Linked DNA regions of Homo sapiens: regions 1, 2, 3, 4, 6 and 7 are each linked to region 5. Evidence: fine-mapped expression QTL. A gene starts in region 5. Each other region holds a variant in brackets. All regions are shown on one strand. Distances are from middle to middle.

Region 1 (4,062 bases), 63 kb after region 5:
CACCCAGCAGTTTAGCACTCATTGATACTTTTTTTTTTTTTTGAGACAGAGTTTCACTCTTGTTGCCCAGGCTGGAGTGCAATGGTGGGATCTCCGCTCACTGCAACCTCCACCTCCTGGATTCAAGCGATTCTCCTGCCTCAGCCTCCTTAGTAGCTGGGGATTACAGGCACACGCCACCACACCCAGCTAATTTTGTATTTTTTAGTAGAGGCGGGTTTCTCTGTGTTGGTCAGACTGGTCTTGAACTCCTGACCTCAGGGGATCCGCCCGCCTTGGCCTCCCAAAGTGCTGGGATTATAGGTGTGAGCCACCACACCCGGCCTCCAACATTTTGTGAAAAACTTCAAACATACAGCAATGTTGAAAATGCTCTGTGAGGCAATGTGAAATGCAATGTGAAAATGCTTTGGGAGGCCGAGGAGGGCGGATCACGAGGTCAGGAGTTCGAGACCAGCCTGACCAACGTGGAGAAACCCCATCTCTACTAAAGATAGAAAAATTAGCTGGGCATGTGGTGGGCACCTGTAGTCCCAGCTCCTCGGGAGGCTGAGGCGGGAGAATTGCTTGAACCTGGGAGGCGGAGGTTGCAGTGAGCCTAGACTGTGCCACTGCACTCCAGTCTGGGCGACAGAGCGAGATTCCATCTCAAAAAAAAAAAAAAAATTAAATTCCTTCTCCCCCAAGCACAAGTCTGTGGGACTTTTTCACATCTTTAAGTTTTGTTACAAAAGTGTTGTGTTTACTATAACAAATTTTAATAGTAGAAAAGTTAGAGCCGGGCACGGTGGCTCACGCCTGTAATCCCAGCACTTTGGGAGGCCAAGGTGGGCGGATCACGAGGTCGGGAGATCGAGACCATCCTGGCCAACACGGTGAAACCCCATCTCTACTAAAAATACAAAAAAATTAGCCGGGCGTGGTGTTGGGCGCCTGTAGTCCCAGCTACTCTGGAGGCTGAGGCAGGAGAACGGCGTGAACCTGGGAGGCGGAGCCTGCAGTGAGCCAAGATCGCCACCACACTCCAGCCTGGGCGACAGAGCGAGACTCCGTCTCCAAAAAAAAAAAAAAAGAAACCGAAACCCTGGCCTAACCCAAGCACGCACTCCAGATGCTCTACGGGGGCCAGAGTGGGGCCTGAATGGCCGGGGGGTCGCCCTGGGTTGATGGGGGACACAGAGTCCACCTGAGCGCCAGAGCTGCGCTTCAGGAATGACTGTGGGCCCTGTCCCCAGGCAGGTACGTGAGCTTCACAGAACGCAGGGACAGGCCTCTGGCCATGGCCAGCCTTGGAGAAGCCACTCTGACCTCAGCCCCTCCCTGTGCACCTGTGTGTGGTCTGCCCGCTGCCTGGCGCCTCATTCCAGGGCTGCCCAGCTGGTCCCCAGAGTTCTCCCAGGGCTCCCACCCTGATATCCTCCTAACTGGGGCCAGGCCTGGGGACACCCCTCTACCCCATCCTCTTGCCTAAATCTCCCCCAGGAGCCCAGTACCTGCTCAACAGATACCCAGGATGTCCCCCACTTCCTGCCTTAACTGGGCTCTCTTCCCTGCAGACCTTGCCTCCCCAGGCCTTGGAGACCCACCCTCCTGGTGTCCTCCTCTCTTCCTAGTGGACCTCAGGCTGCAGGTGACCTTGACCCTCCTGTGACCTCTGCTGCCTCAGCCCTGCCCCCTTGCTGCCATCCTTTACCTTCACAGACAGCCTTGGAACCCCATCTCTCCAGAGGATGCCACCGTCCATACTGTCCCCTACCCCATCTCACCTGGGCACCCTTGAGGGTGGCAGGGAGTGAGGGTGGCATGGACACAGGCTGCCCATTCTGCAGATCTTTTTTTGTTTTTTGAGACGGAGTCTCGCTCTGTCGCCAGGCTGGAGTGCAGTGGCGCAATTTTAGCTCACCGAAACCCGCCTCCTGACTTCAAGTGATTCTCCTGCCTCAGC[C/A]TCCTGAGTAGCTGGCACTACAGGCACGCACCACCATGCCCAGCTAATTTTTGTATTTTTAGTAGAGACTAGGTTTCACCATGTTGGTCAGGATGGCCTCAATCTCTTGACTTTGTGATCTGCCCGCCTCGGCCTCCCAAAGTGCTGGGATCATAGGTGTGAGCTACCAAGCCCAGCCTCTTTTTTTTTTTTTTGAAACCGAGTTTCGCTCTTGTTGCCCAGGCTGGAGTGCAATGGCGCGATCTTGGCTCACTGCAACCTCTGCCTCTCGGGTTCAAGCAATTCTCCTGCCTCAGTCTCCCGAGTAGCTGGGATTACAGGTGTGCACCACCACACCCGGCTAATTTTTTTGTATTTTAAGTAGAAATGGGGTTTCACCATGTTGGCCAGGCTGGTCTTGAACTCCTGACCTCTGGTGATCCACTCACCTCGGCCTCCCAAAGTGCTGGGATTACAGGCGTGAGCCACTGTGCCCAGCTCTGCAGATCTTTTTTGGACGGAGTCTCGCTCTGTTGCCCAGGCTGGGGTGCAGTGGTGCAATCTCAGCTTACTGCAGTCTCCACCTCCTAGGCTCAAACGATCCTCCTGCCTCAGCTTCCTGAGGAGCTGGGACCACAGGTGTGCACCACCGTGCCTGCCTAATTTTTTTGCATTTTTGGTAGAGACAGGGTTTCAACATGTTGCCCAGGCCAGTCTCGAACTCCTGAGCTCAAGTGATCCTCCCAGCACAGCCTCCCAATGTGATGGGATAATTGACATGAGCCACCACACCTGGCCCCGTTCTACTGATCTTGAGCTGAGACTGACCTGCAGGGCCACAGGACACCCCACGAGCTCAGCAGCACCCCTTGTGCTCACACAGGCCTACGCGGCTGTAGGCTGGACCCTGGCTTGGCCTCACCCTTGGGACATGAAGGGCTGGCCGGGGTGAGGCTAGACCATGAGGGCTCTGACAAGAGGACCAAGCACCGGGGCCCCGAGCCTGCCCCGCTGGAGACTGAGGCCACCTCTGCCCGCAGGTCTCTGAAGGTCGGCCTGCAGATCTCCCTGGACTACTGGTGGTGCACCAATGTTGTCCTTCGAGGGGTGGAAGAGGTTTGTCCTGGTGCCCTGGGCACACAGTGGTGGGCATGAGGTGGTGGGCTGGGTGGGACTGAGGAGGCAGCCACCTGTCCCCATGTGTTCTCCCCATGCCTGTGGTCAGAACAGCCCAGGCTACTTGGAGGTGATGTCTGCGTGTCACCAGCGGGCGGCTGATGCCCTGGTGGCAGGGGCCATCAGCAACGGGGGCCTCTACGTGAAGCTGGGCCAGGGGCTGTGCTCCTTCAACCACCTGCTTCCCCCCGAGTATACCCGGACCCTGCGCGTGCTAGAGGACAGGGCCCTCAAGCGGGGCTTCCAGGAGGTGAGTGTGCGCTCAGGCCGAGGGAGGTGGGGCCTCCAGCAGTGGCCCCAGGCTGCTCTGAGCACCTGTCCTTCCAGGTGGATGAGTTGTTCCTTGAGGACTTCCAGGCCCTCCCCCACGAGCTCTTCCAGGAGTTTGACTACCAGCCAATTGCTGCCGCCAGCCTGGCACAGGTGCACAGAGCCAAGCTGCACGATGGCACCAGCGTGGCTGTGAAGGTATATGGGGGCTGCCTTGTTCAGCAGTGGGCTGGGGCGGGGCACAGTGGGGCCCCAAGTTCTCACCACACCCTCGCCCAGTGCAGGTGCAGTACATCGACCTGCGGGACCGCTTTGATGGGGACATCCACACCCTGGAGCTCCTGCTGCGGCTCGTTGAGGTCATGCACCCCAGCTTTGGCTTCAGCTGGGTCCTCCAGGTACAGCCCCACCCCTTCCCCGGCCAGCAGGAGCAAACACGTAGGCAGAGCTGGTAGGAGCAGCTGGTAGGCAGAGCTGGTCTTCAACCGCCATCTGGCCCCCAGGACCTGAAGGGGACCCTGGCCCAGGAGCTGGACTTCGAGAATGAGGGCCGCAACGCAGAGCGCTGTGCGCGGGAGCTGGCGCACTTCCCCTACGTCGTGGTGCCCCGCGTGCACTGGGACAAGTCCAGCAAGGTGGGCTGGGCCAGGCCCTTGGGGTGGGCACAGCGCTGGGCCTGCTGAGCCCAGCCT
Region 2 (4,062 bases), 31 kb before region 5:
GATCTGTCCTGTCCCGTAATCTGCTTGCTGTTTCTGCTTAAAGATTATGAGGCATGTGGGTTAGGGCCCAGTGTACCCTTTTTTGGGACCGAGGCATGTTCTGGGCAGGGCTTTTGAGCAAGGAAGGCAGGTGTGATGAGGCCCGTGGCCAGCCTCCACTCCACTCACAGGTGCACCACCTGTGGATCTGTTCTCCCTGGGGAGGGATGGGGAGCCAACTGGAATGTGAGTGTTTGGTTCCACCTGGTCAGTATGAAGTGGCAATGGTTGGTGCAGGACGTAGCACTGGGGGCGAGCATGGCAATGAGACAGAAACACTGACTTAAAACTGGAAGGAAGCCCTTCTCCAGGCCGCGCAGGGGGCTGCAGAGCTTTCCGGCGCTGGCTGCCTGGCCTGGAGAAAGGAGGTGATCATCCCATCCTGTGACTTTGAGAGCACTCACACAAGCCCTGAGGACTCCCTGTCAGCAGAGTCCCAACAGGGCACCCTCCCACAAATCTACTGCCCAGGCCCAGCTGGCTCTCGGAGGCCTTGAGAAGGCCCTGGTGCTCTTGCTCTCTGCTGCCTTCTCTGGGAGAGTCTCCTTCTGGCTCAGAGTCTTACCACCATTCTGCCAAGAAAAACCCTCCCTATTTGACACAAGAAGATGAGGCAGAATCACAGGCATGGTGACTAACTCTCAAGGCTGAATAACCTGGGGGAGACCGAGGCCCAGAAACTGGCCAGTAACTTTACTGAGCCTGGCCAGGAATGGGACCAGGTCTGGACCACCATTGCACGTCCCCTCCCTGGCCTGAGATCAGGACTCCCACTGCAGCCACTGGAGGCAGAATGCCGGGTCACTGCCCAGGAGACCCCATTGGTGGGGACTGTGGCAGCTACCCCATCCCTGTGTTGTTTGATTTCCCACCCCCCCCTCCCAAGACCCTCATTCCCATGAGCACCCCACCCACACAGGCAAGGGCCTTGAGGGGACCCAGCAAGTCGTGGAGGACAGCACAGCCTTGGAGAGGAAATGTGTCAGCCACAAGGTTATGATCCCGGGGATCCACATAAGAGCATGGGCGTGCACGTGGGTGGTCCTCCCTCAGCCAGCTTCTCAACAGCTTCTCCCAAAGGTACACCTGGATCCAGTACCACTGAGACCCAAAGACGGGGTTGGGGGACTGAATACCTGGACTGACAGGCACCTCCATAGAACTGAGACCCATGAGACCCGGGACCCGCAGCCTCCCTGCCCCGTGCCCTGGTGCCGGCCCTCAGCCCAGCTTCCTCGTCTGCATGCAGCAGCTCCTCTGTCCACCAGCAGAGGCTCTTCTAGGGCCTTGCTGGGCTGCAGCTGACTCAGGAGGGCAACAGCCTCTTCAGAGAATTTGACAGCATGGAGAACCAAACAAAAGCAGAAAGTGAAGCCTCAGAACTGGGTTCACCATCATCCCAGTTTTTTACAAGCTATGATTTTGTCCCATCTTTATTAACAAGATAAGGAAGTATGAAAAGTAATCTCGACATCTGAGATGGTGAGATTACAGCCCCAGGAGCCACCCAGCTGGCTGAGGAGCCTGAGAACAAGGCACAGCCACATGACCTGTGCCAGACAAATGCTAGAATGATGGTCACGCAGGTTAGAACGAACCCAGGTAGACGGAGGCCTCAGGATCAGGGTGAGGCCAGAGGGGGCACCTGGGTGCAAAATTTAAGGAAGCACTTTTTGTTTTTTAGATAAGGTCTCGCTCTGTTGCCCAGGCTGGAGTGCAGGGCTATGATTGCAGCTCGCTGCAGCCTCTGCCTCCCAGGCTCAAGTGATCCAGTCACCTCAGCTGAGTCACTGGGACTACAGGCTTGCACCACCAGACCTGGCTTTTTTTTTTTTTTCTTTTTAAGGTTTTAGTAGAGACAGGGTCTCGCCGTATTGCCCAAGCTAGTCTGGAACTCACGGGCTCAAGCCATCCTCCCATCTCAGCCTCCCGAAGTGCTGGGATTACAGGCTTGAGCCACCGCGCCTGGCCCTGAGGCATTCCTTTTTAAGACCTACCTGCATTCGGATGGCGCTGGGAGTGGGGGCCTCCTTAGATGTGGGCTCCTGGATGCTTCTCTGTCTTCACCTGGCCCCAGCCTCATGGGTGCAGCTGGAAAGACTCTAGAAGGATGTGCTGAAACCCTGGGGCTCCCTGAGACTGAGTGAGCTGGAGGTCACCAAGGCCCTCGGCCTATCGCGGGAGAGAGTTCCATTGAAAGCCAGTGGTCAGGTGGCCGCTGTGGAGGGTCTCTGGGTGGACAATTGGGAGCAGAGTGGTCCCTGCAGTGAGGCAGGGGGCAGGGCCTGAGGGGTCCCTGAAGTAAGGCAGGGCAGGGCGTCCACTCATAAGCACACGAGGAGTTGCAGAAGCAGAGCCGACCTGGCCACGCTCAGTCACTCAGACCCTGG[T/C]CACAGATCGTGTCCGGAGCTCCCACGGCAGGCAGGGCCACCCCTGCTTCCCTGGTTCTGAGAGCCGCCAAGACCCAGCAGGCCCACTGGCCCCACCCTGGAAGATCTGGTATTTGGCCCAAGATGCTGGAGGCCCCACAGCAGCAGCTGTGAGAAGTGCTGCAGGGTCTGGAGGGCCTGATGTGTGCCCGGACCATAGTGCCTCCTGGTGTGGCCATAAGAAGGCACACAGCTGGGGCTGGTCGTGGTGGCTCACGCCTGTAATCCCAGCACTTTGGGAGGCTGAGGTGGGCGGATCACGAGATCAGGAGGTCAGGAGATTGAGACCATCCTGGCTAACATGGTGAAACCCCGTCTATATTAAAAAATACAAAAAACTAGCTGGACGTGGTGGTGGGTGCCTGTAGTCCCAGCTACTTGCGAGGCTGAGGCAGGAGAACGGCGTGAACCCAGGAGGCGGGGCTTGCAGTGAGCTGAGATCGCGCCATTGCACTCCAGCCTGGGTGACAGAGCGGGACTCCATCTCAAAAAAAAAAAAAAAGAAGGCACACATCTGTCCTCATACAGCTTCTGTGCATAGCACAGAAAAAATTAAAAAGGCTCTGTGCTGTAGCCTCCTGTGTTTCCTCTGCCCCGGATGGTGTGGTGGGGGGGGTGCGGTGAGGAGGGGCCCAGGGCACAGAAGGGCTGAGCTGCAGTGGCCTCCTGGGGGGAGGCAGATGCCTCCGGTGCCCCATGCCCACCCAACTCCACAGGCTAGTGTTTGCTCAGTCCTTTATTGAGGGACCAGGGATGGACAGCCTGGCCCTGAAAGTCTCTCAGTTTTGGAGGAGTCAGCCTGTGTGCAGGGCGAGCTGGAGAGGGGTCGGTGGGGCTCACAGTGCCTTCCCAGAGGAAGCAAGCAGCTCCCATCGGGTATATTGAGGGCTGTTGGCTCCAGGGTCTCCTCAAGGTCTGGCAGGTGGAGGGGAGGCTGTCTAAGGAAAGGAGGTGGTCCCAAATGTCTCAAGGCACCTGGCAGCAAGGGCTGCTGCTGCCTCAGCCTCCTCCCTGTGACCCTGTGGGCCATGGTGAGCAGCAGTAGCCACCACACTTGTGCACGGCAGCCAGTGACGAGATGTGATGAGAGATGAGGGCGATTGTGCTGCTCTTGGTCCTTGTGTGGCGAGAACACGCTGGAAGCTCCTCCAGAGCGGAAACAAGAAGAGTGTTTATGAGAAAGGTGCGGGTGGCTCAGATGTGGACAGAACCAGACCAGGGAACGGGGCCACAAAGTGAGCCACTTTGTCTGCACCTGCTCGCGCTTCCTGCCTGCCTCACTGCTTCCATGCCCTGACTCCGGTGGTCCCTGCTCCCCACACGTGGGCCACAGCTACTCACACACGCGCTCCCTTTGCTCCTAAAGCCTATACTCCCGGGACCCGGAGAGGGAACAGCCGGCCAGCCGAGCCCAGGAGCCCAGATCACCGGTCAGCAGATACAGCTTTGACTTGGCAGGAGGCTGGAACAAGAGGCTTGTGGCCTGGGCTGTGGGGCCACCTTGTAGAATACGGCACTGTTCACGTTTTGGGCCAGGGAGCCCTTTGAGAAGATACTCAGAGACACAGACACTTTCTATGTAAGGTGTCCCTAC
Region 3 (4,062 bases), 23 kb before region 5:
CCCAACACTTTGGGAGGCCAGCGCGGGTAGATTGCTTCCACTCAGGAGTTCGAGACCAGCCTGGGCAACATAGGGAGACCCATCTCTACAAAAAAAAATGAGCCTGATGTGGTGGTGTGCTCCTGTGGGCCCAGCTACGCGGGAGGCTGAGGTGGGAGGATCTCTTGATCCCAGGAGGTAGAGGTTGCAGTGAGCCCAGATCGCGCCACTGCACTCCAGCCTGGGTGACAAAGCAGACTCTGTCTCGAAAAAACATACATTGAAAAAGGCAGAAGATTTGAACAGATACATCAAAAAAAAGATAGACAAATAGCAAATAAGCACTTGAACAGGTGCTCAGCATCGTTCGTTGTCAGAGGAATGCACACGAAAACCGCAGCGACAGCGACTAGAACAGCCAGGTGCTGAGGAGGGTGCGGAGCCCCTGGAACTCACCCGTGCTGCTGAGAACACAAATGCTGCATCCGCTTTGGAAAGCAGCTTGGGAGTTGCATGTGAAATTCAGCATTTACCACACGGCCAGCAGTTCTGCTTTGGTTATTCTACTCCAGAGTTTCCACTGGGGGTCCTTTATGATTTCGTCTCTTCTATCATTTTTTTGGTATAGATGGGGGTCTCGCTATTTGGATTATTGTTGCAGGCGTGTTTGGGGTTTTTGAGTAGTGGTAGTGTCTGAGGTCAGTCAGGGTTGTTCTGGCCCCAGCAGGGCTCTTCGTAGCTTTTCCTGTGCAGGTGAACAAGCCTGCGGTTTCACTTGTTTCTCTTAACTTAGAGGAGCTGTTGTTCCCAAGAGCAGTCTTGGGCTGAACTTTCAAATAAAATGAGTTTCCTCAGGGAGCTTCAGAGCTCTTTCCTTATGGACGGCCTCTCTCCCCAGGCTGATTTCTCTGCACCACCCTTCTGGGCACTGGGTAAGACAGCAGCCTCTGATCTTCTTGGCCTGGCTTTCCCAGCATGGGTGCTCTACCCTACTGTTTTAACCTAGAAAGCCTGAACTGTATTTAAAACTTGTGGTTTTTAAGGCCAGGCACAGTGGCTCATGCCTGTAATCCCAGCACCTTGGGAAGCCAAGGTGGGTGGATCACTTATGGTCAGGAGTTCAAGACCAGCCTGACCAACCTGGTGAAAGCCTGTCTCTACTAAAAATATAAAAATAAGCCGGGCGTGGTGGCACATGCCTGTAATACCAGCTACCCAGGAAGCTGAGGCAGGAGAATTGCTTGAACCCAGGAGGCGGAGGTTGCAGTGAGCCAAGATGGCACCACTGCACTCCAGCCTGGGCGACAGCGAGACTCCATATAAAAAATAAAAAAAAAAATTGTGGTTTTGAAAATGCTTTAATTAGGTGGGAGCTGTGGGGAGGGTGATCAGAGACCTGGGTGTCCTCAGCCTGCTGTGGCGGGGGTAGTCTCCTCTCTGAGGCTTGGGCAAGGTGGAGGAAGGGAGCCCCTGGCTTCTTGGCCACGTGCACCAGGATCTTAGTCTCTTCAACTTGGAGTCGGTGAGGATGTGAAACTCTGGTGGTCTGCCCAGCCCATGAGATCCAGGAAACCTTATTTGGGAATTGAGGGGAGAAGGGTCCCCATCTTCCTGCTCCCCTCTCCCTGAGTGTAGTACCCATCATGGTGAGCTGGGGTGAGAGGGAAAGAGGAGGCTGAGGCTCAGATGCCACCAGGCTTAATGTTCGTACCAGGTGTCAGTAGATTTTACTCCGTAAGTGTTCATCTGTTATATGCGTTTAGGACAGTTTTGAGACTTTAAGTGGTTTAAGCTTTGCTTGTTTCACAGGAAGTACTTCCATGAAGTTCCTCACATTGCTGTTCCAGAAGTGGAAATCTCTCCATTTTCAAAGCATAGCTTTGCCGGATATTGAATTTTTATGTTTTGTAGAGATGGGGTCTCGCTATGTTGCCCAGGCTGGTCTCCAACTCCTGGGCTCAAGGGATCCTCCTGCCTTGGCCTCCCAAAGTGCTGGGATTACAGGCATGAGTAACTACACCCGGCCAATATACAAAGATTGAGTGGCAGGGTCTTTTATTTTAATGCTTTTATTTTATTTGTTTTGGTTTGTTTTTGTTTCTGTTTTTTTGGAGATGGAGTCTCGCTCTGTCACCCAGGCTAGAGGGCAGTGGCACGATCTGTGCTCACTACAACTTCTACCTCCCGGGTTCAAGCAGTTCTTCTGCCTCAGCCTCCCAAGTAGCTGGGATTACAGGCATGAGCCACGACACTAAAATTTTTCCATTTTTAGTAGAGGCGGGGTTTCACCATGCTGGCCAGGCTGGAACTCCTGACCTCAAACGATCCACACACCTCAGCCTCCCAAAGTGTTGGGATTACAGGCATGAGCCACCACACCAGGCATTTTAATCCTTTTTTTTTTTTTTTATTGAGACAGAGTCTCACTCTGTCCCCCAGGCTGGAGTGCAGTGG[G/C]GTGATCTCGGCTCACTGCAACCTCTGCCTCCTGGGTTCAAGCGATTCTCCTGCCTCAGCCTCCCGAGTAGCTGGGACTATAGGCGCCCGCCACTGTGCCGGCTAATTTTTATATTTTTAGTAGAGACGGGGTTTCCCCATGTTGGCCAGGCTGGTCTCGAATTCCTAACCTCAGGTGATCCGCCTGGCTCAGCCTCCCAACATGCTGGGATTACAGGTGTGAGCCACCATGCCCGGCTGTGTTACACTTTTTGTGGTGTCTCACAGGTCTCTGAGGCTCTGCTCATTTTTGTTTTTGTTTTTATTTTTTTGAGACAGAGTCTCTTTCTGTCACTAGACTGGAGTGCAGTGGTGCAATCTCGGCTCACTGCAACCTCTGCCTCCAGAGTTCAAGCGATTCTCTTGCCTCAGCCTCCCAAGTAGCTGGGATTACAGGCACATGCCACCATGCCCAACTAATTTTTTTTGTATTTTTAGTAGAGATGGGGTTTGACCATGTTGGCCAGGATGGTCTAGATCTCTTGACCTCGTGATCCAACCACCTTGGCCTCCCAAAGTGCTGAGATTACAGGCGTGAGCCACTGCGCCTGGCCGGCTCCTCCTTCTTATTCCTTCTGTCTTTTTTTCTCCTACTGGAGCACCTCAATTGACTGATCTTCATGTTTGCTGACTCCTTCTTCTCCTAGTCAGGTCTGCTCTTAAGCCCCTCTGGTTAATTTTTTTTTTTTTTTTTTTTTTTTTTTGAGACGGAGTCTCACTCTGTAGCCCAGGCTGGAGTGCAATGGCGCGATCTCGGCTCACTGCAACCTCTGCCTCCCGGGTTCAAACAATTCTCCTGCCTCAGCCTCCTGAGTAGCCGGGATTACAGGCATGAGCCACCACACCTGGCTAATTTTGTATTTTTAGTAGAGACGGGGTTTCTCCATGTTGGTCAGGTTGGTCTCCAACTCCTGACCTCAGGTGATCCGCCTGCCTTGGCCTCCCAAACTGCTGGGATTACAGGCGTGAGCCACCGCGCCCGGCCCCTCTGGTTGACTTTTAATCTGAGTTATTAAACTCTTCAGCTCCATAATTTTGATTTCGGGCTTCTTTACAATTTTTATCTCTTTATTGATACTCTCTGATAAGATGTCATTCTCATACTTTAGTTCTTCAGATGTGGTTTCCTTTAGTTGTTTGAACATATTTGAAATGATTGACTTAAAATCTTTGCCTCGTAAGTCCAGTGTCCAATGTTTTGGCTTCTTTGGGGACAGTTTCTATTGATTGCCTTTTTTTTTTTTTCCCGTGTATGGGGTATGGGTCCTAGCTTCTTGTTTCTTTGCATATCTCTATTTTTTTTTTTAACTAGAGTTTTTTGTTTGTTTGTTTGTTTGTTTGTTTTTGAGTCTGTTACCCAGGCTGGAGCGCAGTAGTTCAATCACAGCTCACTGCAGCCTTCACCTCCGGAGCTCAAGGGATCCTCCCTCCTCAGCCTCCTGAGTAGCTGGGATGATAGGTGTGCGCCACCACGCCCACTTAATTTTTGTATTTCTTCTAGAGACGGGGTTTTGCCATGTTGCCCAGGCCAGTCTCCAACTCCTGAGCTTGAGCAACCCACCCGCCTCGGCTTCCCAAAGTGCTGGGACC
Region 4 (4,062 bases), 67 kb before region 5:
TTGCCTTGGGTGGGGAAATGGGGGGCCTCTAGCAGATGGCCCAGAGCCTGCTTCCTGGAGAGTGGCTCTGGCAGGGATAGGGCTAGCCACCAGGTGGGCAACACGCATTGGGTGCAGACCTGAGGAGTTAATCAGGAAGGGAGGTAGGCGTGTGTGCCCTACCAGCTGAGCACCCTGGCAATCCTGCAGCTCTGCAGTGGACACCCTGCGGTCCATGCTACTCCGCAGCGGCAGCGAGGATGTGGTACAGCGCATGGACCTGGAGGGAGGCTGGGAACTGCTCAGGACCTCGGCGGGGCATGAGGAGGGGGCCACCAGGTTGGCCAGGTGAGCGGGCCCAGCCCACTGCAGCTCCAGCACTGGCTGGGCTCCACCGGATCTCGAGCCCAGAACATGACAGGATCAGGCGGGGGCCCATGCGTGTCAGGCCAATGGTGCCCTGGGCTCCTGCCTGTTCACTCTCTGGGGCAGGGGTAGGGAGGCACCCCTGCAGAGGCCTGGCGAGGCAAGCTGGGAGGCATCTCTGAAACATAGAACTCCCAGAACCTGGCAGCTGGCGGTGGAGCGGACCAGGGCTGTGCAGGGTGGAAGGTGCCTGGGTAGGGTTCAGCACAGCAACAGCCCCTGCACCCTCAGCGGCCCCCTTTCCCAGGGCCATGGCTGAGCACGCAGGGCCCCGACTCCCCCTGGTGCTGAAGACGCTGGCATGCACACACAGCAGTGCGTATGAGAACCAGAGGGTGACCACCACCGCCTTCCTGGCCGAGGTAGGCCCTTCCAGGGACGGATGCTGGGCACCAAGGTGGGGCTCCTGCTCAGGACAGGCACGGGATGCCCTTTTCTTACCCCTAAAAGGCCCCCTCGACCGTGGTCTGTGAGGGAGGTTATGTGGATGCTAGCTACCTCCTCCCCCATGCCAGAACTCACTCAGTCCCACCCAGGGACACCCCCTCTGTGCCTGGTGAGAGGAGGACCGAGGCTCCCTGCAGCCTGTACTCTCCCCAAGTCCAGCTGGGTACATTTGTAGCTGGACAGGGCTGGCCCCTGGGACCCCAGGTGCCCTTGGTGGTGTGGTCTTGGCCTTCGTGGCCAAAGATGCCAAAATCTTGCCCAAGGCCGTGCAGCAGAGCACAGCGGGCGTCAGAGCAGGCCCCAGCGGCACAACAGGGAGGGGTCGCCACTGATCGGAGACCCAGGGAGTAGGTGCTCCACCTCTGTCTGCCACACCGGCGTGGGGACAGCCTCTGGTGTTCTGGGCCTGGGCTGGTGGGTTGAGCCCTGGGGTCAGCGGGGAGAGGGAAGTCACAGCACCTCTGCCTGCAGCTGCTGAACAGCAACGTGGCCAACGACCTCATGCTCTTGGACTCGCTGCTGGAGAGCCTGGCGGCTCGCCAGAAGGACACATGCGCCAGCGTGCGGAGGCTGGTGCTCCGCGGCCTGGCCAACCTGGCCTCCGGCTGCCCTGACAAGGTGGGGTGGCCACCAGCCCCTCTGGGTCCCAGGCAGCATGGGTGGGGGGCTGTGCATGGAGGCCACCCTGTCTTGTGGGGTAGCAGACGGTGACTCTGGGACCCAGGCTGAGTGTAAGGTATCCTCAGGTGCGAACCCACGGCCCCCAGCTCCTCACAGCCATGATTGGCGGGCTGGACGACGGGGACAACCCTCACAGCCCAGTGGCCCTGGAGGCCATGCTGGGCCTTGCGAGGCTGGTGCACCTGGTGGAGTCCTGGGACCTGCGCTCAGGGCTGCTGCACGTGGCCATCCGCATCCGGCCTTTCTTCGACAGTGTAGGCTGGTTGGGGCAGGGGGAGGGAAGAGGGCCCCAGC[C/A]CTTCCTGCCTCTTACTCTGAGCTTTAGCCCCAGCCCCACCCTCCTCCCTGTCTCCCACCTCGGCTAGGTGACCGTGGAGAGCGCGGACCTGCAGGGCTGCTGCTTTGCTGGGCCTGGCAGCCCCCACCCGTAAGGCCCCCACCCGTCGGGGTGTTTCCTGGCCCGGGTCAGGCAAGGGCACCCATCAATGGCAGGGGGCTAGGCAGGCAGGCCTGCAGGGGCACAGCCTGTGAGGAGACGTATGCTGCATGTCCTTCCCAGGAGAAGATGGAGTTCCGGACGGCATCTATCCGCCTCTTTGGGCACCTTAACAAGGTCTGCCACGGAGACTGTGAGGACGTCTTCCTGGACCAGGTGGTGGGCGGGCTGGCGCCCCTGCTGCTGCACCTGCAGGACCCTCAGGCCACCGTGGCCAGCGTGAGTAGCCAGGGGGTGAGTGGGATGGGGTGGGTGGCCTCAACTGGACTTGGCCCCAGTGCCGCATCCCTTAGGCCTGCAGGTTTGCCCTGCGCATGTGTGGCCCCAATCTGGCATGTGAGGAGCTCTCAGCTGCTTTCCAGAAACACCTGCAGGAGGGCCGAGCCCTGCACTTCGGGGAGTTCCTCAACACCACCTGCAAGCACCTGGTGAGGGGTGGGGCCAGGCGGGGCGTGGTGGGTGGGGCGGGGCCAGGCGGCACTGACCAGGCCTCTCCCCAGATGCACCATTTCCCAGACCTGCTGGGCCGTCTCCTGACCACCTGCCTGTTCTACTTCAAGAGCAGCTGGGAGAACGTCCGAGCTGCTGCACCCCTGTTCACCGGTAAGCACCACCCCCTGCCCCACCCCCACGCCGCCCGGCAGCCCCGCCTGATGCCCCCACTTCACAGGGTTCCTGGTGCTGCACTCGGAGCCCAGGCAGCAGCCGCAGGTGGACCTGGACCAGCTCATTGCGGGTGAGCACCCCTCCACGGGGCCCCTCCGCTGGGCCCTGCTGACCCTGTAGGCACCCGCAGGGACTAAGTGATTTTCCTGGATTTCAGGACTTTTTCCCTGTCACTGGTGACCTCATCGTCTCTAGTAATTCACGGAAACTTCTTAACTGTTCCAAAAGAGCTTAAAAAACACTAAAAAAGGAAAAACGATCTTTCCGTTGGCTCCTGAGCCTCCCAGCAGAGGCTGTCAGGAGAGCGTGGCCCACGCGCAGGCATGGGCATGCCGAGGTCACAGCCCGCAGGCAGCCCCCCTCCTCTACCCCCAGCGCTCCAGATCCTGCTGAAGGACCCGGCCCCCGAGGTGCGGACGAGGGCTGCTGAGGCCCTGGGCCGCCTGGTGAAGCTCGCCTAAGGCTCCGGCCAGCACCCCCAGCGAGGAGTATGCACCCAGACCTGTGCCTGAGCTCCAAGACAGGGCCTCCTGAGGACCACAGCCTGGGCACACGACTGGAGGGGCCTGGCCCCAGAACAGGCACTGCTGGGGACCAAACCCAAGCCCTTCAGTGAGGGATGTGCCCAATAAACTCATCTGCTCCCAGCGAGTGACTGACAGGGTGCGATGCTGAGCCTCTTAGGGGATGGGCCAGAGGGTGCCCTGGACTGGCTGTGTTGTCCCCACTGTTTTTGCAAAATTGAGTGAGGGGAAGGCTCGGCGCTGTGGTGGGGGCGGCTTTGTTGGCAACCCCAATTCAAGAAGGTGGGAGCACCAGGCAGCACAGGGTAAAGGCTCTGTTGACTTCAGCACGACCACCCCAGCCCCAGGCAGGCAGAACAGCTAGGTGAAGAGGCGGACAGTCCCGTCTGCCCCCGAGGAGAAGACCCACGGCTGGGTGGGGTGGAAGATGACGTCCAGCACTCCCAGATCTCGGGTCAGCACGTGTCCCTTCAGCACCTTGACGGGCACCAGCAAGGGGTTCTGCAGAAGGTCACTGTGGGGACGAGGAGGGCTCAGGGCACGGCCAGACACCACTGCCCTGGGGAGGGGGCCAGGCAGGGTCAGCACTCACTTGTACACCATGCCATGGCAGACGATGACACTGCCGTCGTCCGAGCCTGACGCAAAGAGTGGGTACCGCGGGTGGAAGGCCACAGCCCGCAGAGCCTTCTTGTGGTGTCTGGGGGGAGGGAACCAGGTTGAAGGCAGGCTCGGGCTGAAGGGAGGGGCTCTGCTGGCCGCCTCCACCCCCAGCTTTCCTCACCTCAGCATCCTGTATGGCTTGGTGGAAAGATCCAGGTCAAACCACACCAGCTTGCTATCGTA
Region 5 (4,062 bases):
CCTCCTTTTCAGGTAGGAGGTGCCTAGGCCAGCCTCCCTCACCAGCACCCCAGGCCCACAGCAGGCAAGCACCCCTCTCAGGAGGGCCACCCTCCTCCCCACGGCCCCTTCAAGGCCTCCGTGCCCGACCTTTGTCCATGTTGCTCCATGCCTGACTCTCGCTGAGGTTATCTTATCTCCCAGATGAACTGAGCACCCTGAGGGCCACGACAGTGCCTGCCCTCCCCCAACCCCCTCCCCATGGTGCCCCGTGAAGGAAAGCTCTGTTCTTGCTCACTGAGAGAGCAAATCATTGCCAACTACATGTCCAAAATCAGCCCACTTCTGCCTTGATAACCTCTAGGCCCTCAGCTGCTCTCTAAAACAAAGCCCTGAGGGCCCCTGGGCCAGGGTAAAGGCCATAAAGGGGGGATGGAGGGTGGCAAGGGGATTGCTCAAGGCCAGCTTGGTGGAGGAAGCCAATGCCCAGGCTGGCCAAGTCCTTCCCATCGGCCATGGTTCTCTCCCTCCACCCCTCTCTGTCAGTCATCCAGCTGAGCAGGGCACACGCCTGCAGGTGTGTCCACCACCCCCATACCCCACTCCCCACCTGGAGGATGGAAGTCCCAACACAGAACCCAACTCTCTGTCCCTACAACAGACGCTGGCTCTGGCAACATCGGCAGGGCTCCAGGCCAGCCTAACCACTGGAGCAATGAATGGGCCACGCAGCCACTCTCAGAAGGGTCTGCAAGGACAAGAACGCCTCTAACACTGCCCCTTGTCCGGGGCAGCTGCTGATTCCCCTGTCCTCGGACAGGCCTGGGCTCCTCTGGCCCCCTCCCTGGCAGGCCAGCCCTCCTCTGGGAGCCTTTCCTACCCGCAAGGCACCGCTCATAGCACCAAGAAGGAACCTATCACCACAAACTGCCCAGATCTTATCTGACTCCTTCCATATAAGGGGACACTGTCCAGGGCCGGGCCCCCACCAGCCCGCCCCTCGAAAAGCTCCTCAGGAGCCCCTGAGGATGCACAGACCCAAGAGGATCTGGATGCGGGACACCTGCCGGCTCCCCTCTGCCTGGCCAAGGCCAGCTCCAGAGCCCCTACCCAGTGACCTTGTCAGGTGACTCTCCCCAAGCCTCAGTTTCCCCACAGGGCCCATAGGGCACACCGATCCCCGCTTAGCCCAGGGCCCATGTTCTCGGACTCGGAGCTCGCGCTTCGGCCAACCCCGGAAAGTCGCGGGGCCCTTGGGTCAGAGGTTAGGGGGTCAGGCGCTCCGCTACCTCAGCTCCCAGTGGCCGCTGCCCACGCCGGCGTCTCCGTCCTTGTTGGGGGCCGGGGCTGGCGCGTCCCCCGCGGCTCCCACGTCGGGGCCCGCAGCGGCGTCCCGCACCTCCTCTTCCGCCGCCGCAGGCCCGCCGCCGCCGTGGCTCGAGGGCCGCGACCCTGTCCTCCGGCGCCGGGAGCTGCCGCGGTCGCCCATGGCCTCAGCCCGCACCCGGCCGCAGCCAAGCGTGGGCCCGCCGGGTTCGTAGCGCCCGAGGCGCGCGGCCCCACCTCCGGGCCCTAGACAACGGCCGCCACTGCCCCCTGCCGGCCGCCGTAGCCCGGGTGACCGCCTCACCAGCGCGTTCAACCCGCCCGCGTCGGGCCCGTCGGCCTCAAGGACAACGGCTGCGTTGCTCCGGAGCCGCTAACTAATGGACGGCCGCCTCTCTCGTCCATTTGTAGTCCGCGGCCGACCTGAGGCGGGGCCTGGAGAGGCTGACGGGGCGCAGGGCACCCTGGGAGTCGTAGTCGCCGCGGGCGCGCCGGCGCAGAGCACCCTGGGAGTCGTAGTCGCCGCGGCCGCACCGGCGCAGAGCACCCTGGGAGCCGTGGCAGCTCCCAGGGCCGGGGCTGCGGGCCGCAAGTGCGCGCAGCGGGAACGGACCTTGCATCGCTCCCGCGTGGTCCCGGGGTCCTGTCCGGCCCCACGGAGCGGGATGGTCCGCTGAGGGGTGCGCTGGGCCCCGACTTCCTGGCCGCTGTGCGCCCGCCCCTCGTCCCACTTGTGTACACACGGGGTCTCGGCGAGTCACTCCGGGCAATCATTTAGGAAGCGCCTAGTGCGCCACGGTCCAGCTGTCCGGGCCGGTGTCCGCGGCGGCTCGCGTCGCCCGCCACCCAGCGCGTTGGTTTCTGCGCACGCAGCTTACAGTAACGTCCCTGGCGCGCTTCTGCTCCGCGAGCCCTCTGGTTACCCCGGCAGGAACCTGCTTTTCTTCGCCTTAGGGGGACGTCAGACAAGGGCCAGGTCAGAAGACCAAGCTGGAGAAATGCACCAGGCCCTGCGTCACCGGGACGCCTGCCTTGCACGCGACTCCCAGGCTCTCCACCTCCCCGCCTGCAGAGCCCGGCGAGAGGAGGGCGAGGGCGAGGGCGAGGGCGCAGGCCCCTTGGTGGTGTCTTCTCAGCCCACCCACTCTCTCCACAAGGAGCTCCACGTCCCTCAACTCTCAGGGCCTCCCAGTTTCCAACGTGGGCCAGCCTCTCCAGGATGTCAGAAGTCTGGGCCGCTGGATCGCCGGGACTCAAGAGGCTTCTGTGCATTTGCACGGCCTGTGCAACCGCCCTGTTGTTTTTTGTTTTCTTTTTTCTTTTTTTGAGACAGTCTCACTCTGTCGCCAGGCTGGAGTGCAGTAGCGCGATCTCGTCTCACTGCAACCTCCACCTCCTGGGTTCAAGCGATTCTCCTGCCTCAGCCTCCCGAGTAGCCAGGACTACAGGCGCGTGCCACCACGCCCAGCTAATTTTTCTGTTTTTAGTAGAGACGGGCTTTCACCATATTGGCCAGGCTGGTCTCGATCTCCTGACCTCGTGATCCGCCCACCTCGGCCTCCCAAAGTGCTGGGATTATAGGCGCAAGCCACCGCGCCTGGCCTGTTGTTATTTTTTCTAAAGATGGGGGTCTCGCTATTCTGCCCAGGCTGGTCTCGAACTCCTGGCCTCACGCAATCCTCCCACCTCGGCCTCTGAAGGTGCTGGGATTACAGGTATGAGCCACTGCCCCAGACATCTTGTATGTTAAATGAAGCAACTAATCAACTGTAACAGCCACAGTTGCGGCCCACCTTGGCTTGGTGTGCATATTGCACAGGGCATGGAGTGAGAACATCCTGGATCTCAGGATGCCAGGGTTCACTGAGGACTCTGACTCTAGAAACACCTTCATTCCTCTGGGGTGAGCAGGGGCAAGCAGCACTTCTCTGGAAGCAAACAGGTGCTCCTCCTGAGGTGGGGTCCTCTCCCGTGGGCTGGTCACAGCCTCGCCTCTGAGCTCCGTCCTCTTCCACCACCTCCACCAACAGTGGCCAGCAGGGCTGCCCCCTTGGTTGCCCCCCTGGTGACATATTCTTGTCACCACAGGCCGCTGTGGGTTGCTGCCAACCAGGTATCAGGCAGGCTGGAGCTACCTGGCAGATGCCCTTTGTGTAGCCTGCCGAGTGGGGCCGCCCTCACTGGACCCAAGAGCCCCTCACACATGGGCCTTGGTCGGTCAGGACCAGCCCCATCTCCTACCCAGTCTCTCAGAATATTCATTTGTTGAATGCAGTCGCTGGCAGACACACTCTGTGGCCAGGTAGGCCCAGACCTGTCTGAGTATGGACTGACAGCAAGCTCAGAGAGGTCTGGACCTGGCCACGGAGCACCTCATGCTAGGCAGAGGAGATCAACGACTCAACCTGTGGTCGCGTCCCAACTCAAAGCCGGCAAGTGGCCACAGGAGAAAGACAATGGGAGGGTGGACTGGACCACCAGGGAGGATGGGTCGGGCCTGGTGAGCAGAGCCAGGCTTGGAGCCAATGGGGAAAGCACTGGCTGTGGGCGGGCCATTAAGGAAGGGCTTTGCCACCGGGGGTGGGGGCGTGGCGGGGCAGCAGCTCCAGAGGTGGGTGAAGCCCTGCCCAGACAGGCCCTATACCCTGGGATCTAGGGTGAGGGGAATGGTCAGGGTAGGTGAGGTTGGTTGGGGACAAGGGTGTGTATGGCTGGGTCATCGAGGAAAGCATGATGCAGATCACCCTGCTGGGGGCA
Region 6 (4,062 bases), 44 kb before region 5:
AATACTAGGTCTTAGGCCTTCTCTTACTAGTGCTTTTTTCTTTCAAGACAGAGTCCCACTCACTCTGTCACCCAGGATGGAGGCAGTGGCATGATCTCAGCTTACTCTAACTTCCGCCTCCCAGGCTCAAGCAATTCACATGAGGTTTCACCATGTTGGCCGGGCTGGTCTCGAACTCCTCAAGTGATCCGCCCACCTTGGCCTCCCAAAGTGCTGGGATTACAGGTTTGGCTCACCGCATCCAGTCTTTTCTCACATTCTTGACTGTGACAAGCAGATTAACTGATAAAAACAGAAACTTCTGCACAAAATAATAAAAAGAAAAACTCACATAAATGAAAAGACAAAACCAAGCAAAGCTGGGAAAAAAATGAATCTAAATGAGCACAGAAAGGAAAAAACAGCTCTGAGCGCACGGACCCCACAGATCCACTAGACACCAGCGATAAAGAGAAGGCCCTGCAACCAGTCCTCGCTCCGGTGAGCCCGCGGCCCGCGCTGCCGTGTGCTGCTGGAGAGGGGACAGGAAGCGAGGCACAGGCCGGCAGGAGGCAGCTTCCTCCCTGGCTGGTCAGTGGAGGGCTGGGAGCACCCGTGTCAGGGGTGCTGCAGGGCAGGGAGCACACAGCCCAGGGCGCCCCTCCAGTGGGATGGCTCGCAGACACAGTCAACAGCTGGAAGGGCAGGGGCTGCAGAAAGTCCCAGGGAGTAGGAACCAGGCCAGGAGACAGAACTCGTGGGTCATCAGGTGGCACAGAACGCAATTAAGAGGCAGGACTGCCAGGCCCAAGGCAGGGAGGCTGGAGATGGGGTGGGCCCTGGGGTGAGGCTGGCCCACCAAGCTCGTGCCAGAGCAGGTGGACCCAGAAAGAGGGGTCACTGTAGCAGGGACGCAAAGGGTGGGGAAGGGATGCCTGCCCTCAAACCACACAAACACAAAAATAAATCAAACCCACTGGCCCCAAGGAGGCTACTAGCAACAGCTGTGGGCCCTGCCGTGGCCCACAGATACCCCAGGGAAGGAAGGGGGAGGTACAGCACCCACCCCATCTTCTTGGGCCCTGTCCCTGTCCTCATCCCTATCCTCTGACCACCCCCCAGACACAGAGTACCCTTCTTCACCTTCACTCCTGAGCTCCTCATGCCAACAGTCAGGGGAGGAGCTGCAAAGGGCACAGCCAGACCCTGCTCCTTGAGTGCACCTCACAAAACACCAGGACTCCTGACCCCAGAAACACAGACAGCAAATGCTCGTTGTTGAAAGGCACTATGGTGGCCAGGTGCGGTGGCTCACGCCTGTAATCCCAGCACTTTGGGAGGCCAAGGCAGGTGGATTACCTGAGGTCAGGAGTTCAAGACCAGCCTGGCCAACATGGTGACACTCCCTCTCTACTAAAAATACAAAAAAAAAAAAAATTACCCGAGCGTGGTGGCTGGCATCTGTAATCCCAGCTACTCAGGAGGTTGAGGCACGAGAATCGCTTGAACCCAGGAGGCAGAAGTTGCAGTGAGCCGAGATTGTGCCACTGCACTCCAGCCTGGGCGATAAGAGCAAAAAAACTCCATCTCAAAAAAAAAAAAAAAAAAAAAAAAGAAAGGCTCCATGGTTTGGGGCAGTTTGTTGTGGTGCCAGATAACAAAACAAACAAACAGAGAGAAAACAGCAAAGGGCTCCTGGCCCAGGGAGCTCAGACCAAAATGACAAGAACCAGCTAGCTGTCCTGCCCTTGGGCAACAGCCATGAGGGTTTCCAGCCAGCTAAGTGCATGGATGATGCCGCCACAGGGAAGAGACAGAAGGGCTTCCGGGACTGGGACCACGGGCACGCACCGCCATGCCTGGCTCATTTTTTAAATTTTCTGTAAAAATGGGGTCTCATTATATGGCACAGGCTGGTCTTGAACTCCTGGGCTCAAGAGATCCACCTGCCTTGGCCTCCCAAAGTGCTGGGATTACAGGTGTGAGCCACTGGGCCCAGCCTGTGACTCATTCTTTTTATTTTTATTTTTTCAGTTAAGCCCAGCTGTGCGAGCCTCATTCTTAATGAAAGAAAAACATCACTAAACAAGAGGAAAAGATGAAGCAGCAACACCATGAGGGAGGCTGGTGGTGGGAAAGCAGCTGAGGGGCGGCTGCAGTAGTGCATGGCATCACCGCCTAGCGGAGGGACGCTCCAAGCACCTTCACAATTAAATGCATTGATGGCCAGGTGCGGCGGCTCACGCCTGTCATCCCAGCACTTCAGGAGGCC[A/C]AGACAGGTGGATTACCTGAGGTCAGGAGTTCGAGACCAGCTCAGCCAACATGGTGAAACCCGTCTCTCCTAAAAATACAGACATTAGCCGGGCGTGATGACGGGCGCCTGTAATCCCGGCTACTCAGGAGGCTGAGGCGGGAGAATCACTTGAACCCAGGAGGTGGAGGTTGCAGTGAGCCGAGATTGCACCACCGTACTCCAGCCTGGGCGACAGAGCGAGACTCTGTCTCAAAAAACAAAACAAAACAAAACAAAACAAAACTAGCCAGGCATGGTGGCGGGGACCCTGTAGTCCCAGCTACCAGGGAGGCTGAGGTAGGAGGATCCCTTGAGCCCAGGAAGTTGAGATTTTGGTGAGCCAACATCGCACCACTGCCCTCCAGCCTGAGTGACAGAGTGAGACCCTGTCTCAAACAAAAAAAAGCATTTATCCTTTGACCTAGAAATTCTCTTGGAATTTTCCCCAAGAATGGTGTGCACATGTGAGAAACAGCATGTTACTGTCAGGTCAACTGTAAGAGCAAAAGCCTGCAACTGCCCACCCACTGGAGCTGTTGAGGCCGAGCTGCCAGGCACTCTACGGGCACCAAGCACTGTACAAACCAGAGCCATGGCCTCCCTGACAGAACCATCCTGAGACAGCGCACGGCTGCCCCTTCTCTTAAGAAACCACCATTCAAAAACTCTGTGCGAGTTTGGATATGTCTAGAACATCCTGGAAAGAGACTTCAGCACTGGAAACAGTAGTTGCCTGGATGCAGCAACAGGAGCCAGGAGGGAAGGGTAGGAGACTCGTTCCCTGGCACACCCCTCAGGAGCACCTGAGCATCCAAAGGTGCCCTAGAACACCACGTGCAGCTGCTCACTGAATGCCACGTAATTCTACACAGTCCTTAGAAAGGAGGCAGGGTCGTGTGCATGTCAATGCTAAAGGCCTGAGGGCAGAAAGCCAGAGGGAAGCCTGTGGCCCGGCCCTGCAGCCAGAAGCACGCCCACCCTGGGTCCACCCAGGCAGGTCCGGAGCCCTTGGCAGGTCGCCAGGTCTCCACAGGGGCCGCCAGCAGCTGACCCCCAGCAGTCACCGGGCTCCCCGCTACAAGGGCCTCCCACTGTGGGGCTCTCCGCAGGACGCCCCGGGCCGGTCTGGGTTGGTTTGGGGCACACACTTGGAATCAGATTTATGGAGGAGGCTCTCTGAAGGTGACCCATCAGCCACATCGCTGCCAGGATGGCAGAGATGAACAAAAGCCGCAGCTCCCTCCCATGCCAGTCACACAGCCCCTTCTTCACAGCACCATCGGGGCCGGGTATACCCACCAAGGGCTAGGCGGCCTGGGGAGTGAGGCCCTCGCCCTGCCTGACTTCGTGTGTCCCTGAGGTGTCCGTGACATGACACATGCATGCTGCCTGATGCCCAGCCCCATCCCGCCACTGTTCCAGTCTGATGTGATGCTGTGGCTGGGATGTCCTTCAGATGCACGAGGCAGAGGCCACAGGGGCCACGTCTTGCCAACCACTGTGGAGGAAACAGCGACAGGAGGGAGTGGGGGGACAGGCAGAAGCACGTGGCAGAAGAGAAATTAGCAAAAACATCATCTCGTCCTTCAGGGGCTGCCAGGCAGACATTACCCTCACTTACCAAGTAACCCACCGAGGCCCATGAACCATCTGCAAGACCACACGAGTGGCCGTGGCCAGGACCACAGAATCCCAGGTGCGCCCACTGCAGGGCAAGGACACTTAGCAGCAGGAGAAGCTGCTGTGTCACTGTGGTGTGAATTCCCAGAACCAAGGGGCACTGATTCTAG
Region 7 (4,062 bases), 21 kb after region 5:
AACATAGTGAAACCTCGTCTCTACTAAAAATATAGAATTAGCCAGGCGTGGTAGCTCATGCCTGTACTGTAATCCCAGCTACTCAGGAGGCTGAGGCAGGAGAAATGCATGAACTCAGGAGGCGGAGGTTGCAGTGAGCTAAGATCACACCATCACACTCCAGCCTGGGCAACAAGAGAGAACCTCCATCTCAAAAAAAAACAAAAACAAAAAGGCTGGGCTTGGTGGCTCACGCCCGGAATCCCAGCACTTTGGGAAGCCAAGGCAGGTGGATCACAAGGTCAGGAGATCAAGACCATCCTGGCTGACATGGTGAAACCCCGTCTCTACTAAAAATACAAAAAAAATTAGCTGGGCGTGGTGGTGGGTGCCTGTAGTCCCAGCTACTCGGGAGGCTGAGGCAGGAGAATGGCGTGAACCTGGAAGGTGGAGCTTGCAGTGAGCCGAGATCGCGCCACTGCACTCCAGCCTGGGCGATAGAGTGGGACTCCATCTCAAAAAAAAAAAAACAGGGTCTCATCCTGTTGTCCAGGCTGGAGTGCAGTGGTACAATCACAGCTCACTGCAGCCTTGACCTCTTGGGTTCAAGTGACCCTGCCACCTCAGCCACAGGGGCATGTCACTGTATCCAGCTAATTTAAAAAAGTTGGCTGGGCATGGTGGCTCACGCCTGTAATCCCAGCACATTGGGAGGCCGAGGCAGGCAGATCACTTGAGGTCAGGAGTTCAAGACCAGCCTGGGCAACATGGTGAAACTCTGTCTCTACTAAAAAAAAAAAAAAAAAAAAAAAAAATACAAAAATTAGCCCAGCCTGGTAATGCATGCCTGTAATCCCAGCTACTGGGGAGACTGAGGCAGGAGAATCACTTGAACCCAGGAGGTGGAGATTGTAGTGAACTGGGATCACACCCAGCGCCCACCAGCCTGGGTAACAGATTGAGACTCCGTCTCAAAAAAAAAAATTTTTTTTTTTTGTAGAGACGAGGTATCACCATGTTGCCCAGGCTGGCTTGAACTCCTGGGCTCAAGGGAGCCTCCTGCCTTGTCCTGTCAAAGTGCTGGGATTACAGTTGTGAGCCACTGAGCCCGGCCTGTCTTCCATGCCTATGGTTCCTTTGTCACAGTTAAGACACCAACATTGGGCCGGGCGTGGTGGCTCACGCCTGTCATCCCAGCACTTTGGGAGGCCGAGGCGGGTGGATCCCCTGAGGTCAGGAGTTTGCGACCAGACTGGACAACATGGTGAAACCCCATCTCTGCTAAAAATATAAAAAAACTAGCATGGTGGTGGGTGCCTGAAATCCCAGCTACTCGGGAGGCTGAGGCAGAATTGCTTGAACTCAGGAGACGGAGGTTGCAATGAGCTGACACAGCACCACTGCACTCCAGTCTCAGTGACACAGTAAGACTCCGTTGCAAAAAAAAAAAAAAGAAAAAAAAAGAAACCAACCTTGATACATTACTGCTAACTCCAGGCTTTATTTGGATTTCACTAGTTTTTCCATCTACATCCTCTATCTGTTACAGAAATCAATTCAAGATACGACTTTGCATTTAGCTATCACGTCTCTTTAGTCTGTGGTCTGTGACAATTTATCAGTCTTTCCCTGTTTTTCATGATCTTGACAGTTTTGAGGAGCACTGCTCAATTTTATAGATTGAATGAGTCTTTGGTAAAATGTCCCTCAGTTGGGGTTTGTCTGATGTGCTCT[C/T]GTGATGAGGGTTTGGGGTGTGGGGAGGCTTCTCATTACATCACCGCAGGGCTCATGTGGCGTCACTGTGACATCACTGGTGAGGCTGACCTCAGTCACCTGGTTAACGTGGCATCTGCCAGATTCTTCCACTGTCAAGTTACTATTTTTCTTTTCTTTTCTTTTTTTTTTTTTTTTTGAGACGGAGTCTCGCTCTGTCTCCCAGGCTGGAGTGCAGTGGTGTAATCTCGGCTCACTGCAACCTCTGCCTTCCGGGTTCAAGCGATTCTCCTCCCTCAGCCTCCTGAGTAGCTGTGATTACAGGCAACTGCCACCATGCCCGGCTAATTTTCTATTTTTAGTAGAGACGGGATTTTGCCATGTTGGCCAGGTTGGTCTCGAACTCCCGACCTTGTGATCCACCTGCCTCGGCCTCCCAAACTGCTGGGATTATAGGCGTGAGCCACCACACCTAGCCCTTTTTTCTTTTCTTTTCTTTTCTTGAGACAGAGTTTCGCTCTTGTTGCCAAGGCTGGAGTGCAGTGGCGTGATCTGGGCTCACTGCAACCTCCACCTCCTGGGTTCAAGCGATTCTACTGCCTCAGCCTCCTGAGTGGCTGGGATTACAGGAGCCCACCACCTCGCCCAGCTAATTTTTGTATTTTTAGTAGAGATGGGGTTTCACCATGTTGGCCAAGCTGGTCTCGAACTCCTGAGCTCTGGTGATCCGCCCACCTCGATCCCCCAAAGTGCTGGGATTATAGGCGTGAGCCACCAGGCCCGGCCACCTACCCTTGTTTGACCCAACTAACTGCCTACTCCACACCTGCATCTAAGCAGCAAACCTTTTCCCTAGAAAAACAACCACATCCACTCACCCTTCACATGTGTGACACGCATCTCAACTGAGCACCCCACACTGCCTGACAATCTTACTATACTTTCCCTATCCAGTTACTCTCCTGCTCCCTGGGAAGACTATTTCACACCTCGTCTTCTTGACTTAAAACCTGCTAATCCCCTCCACCTTCAAAGCTAATAACCTTTTTTTTTTTTTTTGAGACAGAGTCTCACTCTGTCGCCCAGGTTGGAGTGCAGTGGCGCCATCTTGGCTCACCACAAGCTCCGCCTCCTGGGTTCACGCCATTCTCCTGCCTAAGCCTCCCAAGTAGCTGGGACTACAGGTGCCCACCACCACGCCCGGCTAATTTTTTTTTGTATTTTTAGTAGAGACGGGGTTTCACCGTGTTAGCCAGGATCTCCTGACCTTGTGATCCGCCCGCCTTGGCCTCCCAAAGTGCTGGGATTACAGGCGTGAGCCACTGCACCCGGCCAACCATTTTTTTTTTTAAGAGATGGGGTCTCACTATGCTGTCTAGCCTGGTCTCAAACTCCTGGGCTTAAGCAATTCTCTTGCCTCATCCCAGCCTCCCAAGCAGTTGAGACTACAGGTGTGCAGAACCGCATCTGGCTAATTTTTGTATTTTCTGTAGAGACAAGGTTCACTATGTTACCCAGACTGGTCTTGAACAGGAGTTCAAGCAGTCCACCTGCTTTAGCCTCCCAAAGTGCTAGCATCACAGGTGCAAGCCACAACGTTCAGCCTAATAATCTTATTAGTTAGAATCACACTTGCCAGCAACTGTTAGAAAACTCCAAATAGGCCGGGCGCGGTGGCTCATGCCTGTAATCCTAGCACTTTAGGAGGCCAAGGCAGGTGGATCAAATAGGCCGGGCACGGTGGCTCATGCCTGCAATCCCAGCACTTCAGGAGGCCAAGGCAGGTGGATCAAATAGGCCGGGTGCGGTGGCTCATGCCTGCAATCCCAGCACTTCAGGAGGCCAAGGCAGGTGGATCAAATAGGCCGGGTGCGGTGGCTCATGCCTGCAATCCCAGCACGTCAGGAGGCCAAGGCAGGTGGATCAAATAGGCCGGGTGCGGTGGCTCATGCCTGCAATCCTAGCACCTTAGGAGGCCAAGGCAGGTGGATCAAATAGGCCGGGTGCGGTGGCTCACACCTGTCATCCCAGCACTTTAGGAGGCCGAGGCAGGCAGATCACGAGGTCAGGCGTTTGAGACCAGCCTGGCCAGCATGGTGAAACTCTGTCTCTACTGAAAATACAAAAATTAGCCAGGCATGGTGGCGGGCACCTGTAATCCCAGCTATTTGGGACGCTAAGGCAGGAGAATCACTTGGAACAGGAAGGCAGAGGTTGCAGTGAGCAGAGATCATACCACTGCACTCCAGCCTAGGCAAAAGAGCGAAACTCCATCTCAACAACAACAACAAATGTAAATTACAGTGGCTTAAACTGGAAATTTGTCTCTTTCACATAAATAGAGTCCATTAGAAGCCATGCAGGACTAGT

Evidence for each region.
Region 1: its variant is fine-mapped to the expression of DGAT1 in whole blood (TOPMed, PIP above 0.99).
Region 2: its variant is fine-mapped to the expression of DGAT1 in whole blood (TOPMed, PIP above 0.99).
Region 3: its variant is fine-mapped to the expression of DGAT1 in whole blood (TOPMed, PIP above 0.99).
Region 4: its variant is fine-mapped to the expression of DGAT1 in whole blood (INTERVAL, PIP above 0.99).
Region 6: its variant is fine-mapped to the expression of DGAT1 in whole blood (TOPMed, PIP above 0.99).
Region 7: its variant is fine-mapped to the expression of DGAT1 in whole blood (TOPMed, PIP above 0.99). The same link has a PIP of 0.9 or more in blood mononuclear cells.

What each region holds. Positions count from the first base shown.
Region 1 is chr8:144,387,707-144,391,768 of GRCh38, forward strand. It overlaps ADCK5 (aarF domain containing kinase 5), which reads left to right. Exons shown (of 15, transcript NM_174922.5): 4 at 2,965-3,040; 5 at 3,150-3,350; 6 at 3,428-3,568; 7 at 3,655-3,768; 8 at 3,874-4,005. Among named protein-coding and RNA genes, the nearest start is that of MIR939, 4.5 kb to the right of the region's middle. RefSeq lists an enhancer at 743-1,244. The variant C/A (reference allele first, on the strand shown) is at 1,946.
Region 2 is chr8:144,293,852-144,297,913 of GRCh38, forward strand. The region is part of intron 1 of HSF1 (heat shock transcription factor 1); the gene reads left to right. Among named protein-coding and RNA genes, the nearest start is that of HSF1, 4.3 kb to the left of the region's middle. The variant T/C (reference allele first, on the strand shown) is at 2,430.
Region 3 is chr8:144,302,575-144,306,636 of GRCh38, forward strand. The region is part of intron 1 of HSF1 (heat shock transcription factor 1); the gene reads left to right. Among named protein-coding and RNA genes, the nearest start is that of MIR6848, 13 kb to the right of the region's middle. The variant G/C (reference allele first, on the strand shown) is at 2,434.
Region 4 is chr8:144,258,588-144,262,649 of GRCh38, forward strand. MROH1 (maestro heat like repeat family member 1) reads left to right here. Exons shown (of 44, transcript NM_032450.3): 36 at 190-327; 37 at 653-767; 38 at 1,324-1,470; 39 at 1,599-1,787; 40 at 2,090-2,245; 41 at 2,320-2,454; 42 at 2,527-2,629; 43 at 2,697-2,762; 44 at 3,068-3,339. The coding sequence ends at 3,153. BOP1 (BOP1 ribosomal biogenesis factor) reads right to left here. Exons shown (of 16, transcript NM_015201.5): 14 at 4,001-4,062; 15 at 3,809-3,916; 16 at 3,458-3,730. The coding sequence ends at 3,577. Among named protein-coding and RNA genes, the nearest start is that of MIR7112, 2.1 kb to the right of the region's middle. The variant C/A (reference allele first, on the strand shown) is at 1,828.
Region 5 is chr8:144,325,169-144,329,230 of GRCh38, forward strand. It overlaps DGAT1 (diacylglycerol O-acyltransferase 1), which reads right to left and starts at 1,684. Exons shown (of 17, transcript NM_012079.6): 1 at 1,269-1,684. The coding sequence starts at 1,468. RefSeq lists silencers at 1,311-1,380, 1,391-2,110.
Region 6 is chr8:144,281,633-144,285,694 of GRCh38, forward strand. The region is part of intron 2 of BOP1 (BOP1 ribosomal biogenesis factor); the gene reads right to left. Among named protein-coding and RNA genes, the nearest start is that of BOP1, 7.8 kb to the right of the region's middle. The variant A/C (reference allele first, on the strand shown) is at 2,252.
Region 7 is chr8:144,346,047-144,350,108 of GRCh38, forward strand. No RefSeq gene overlaps it. Among named protein-coding and RNA genes, the nearest start is that of CATSPERQ, 6.9 kb to the right of the region's middle. The variant C/T (reference allele first, on the strand shown) is at 1,714.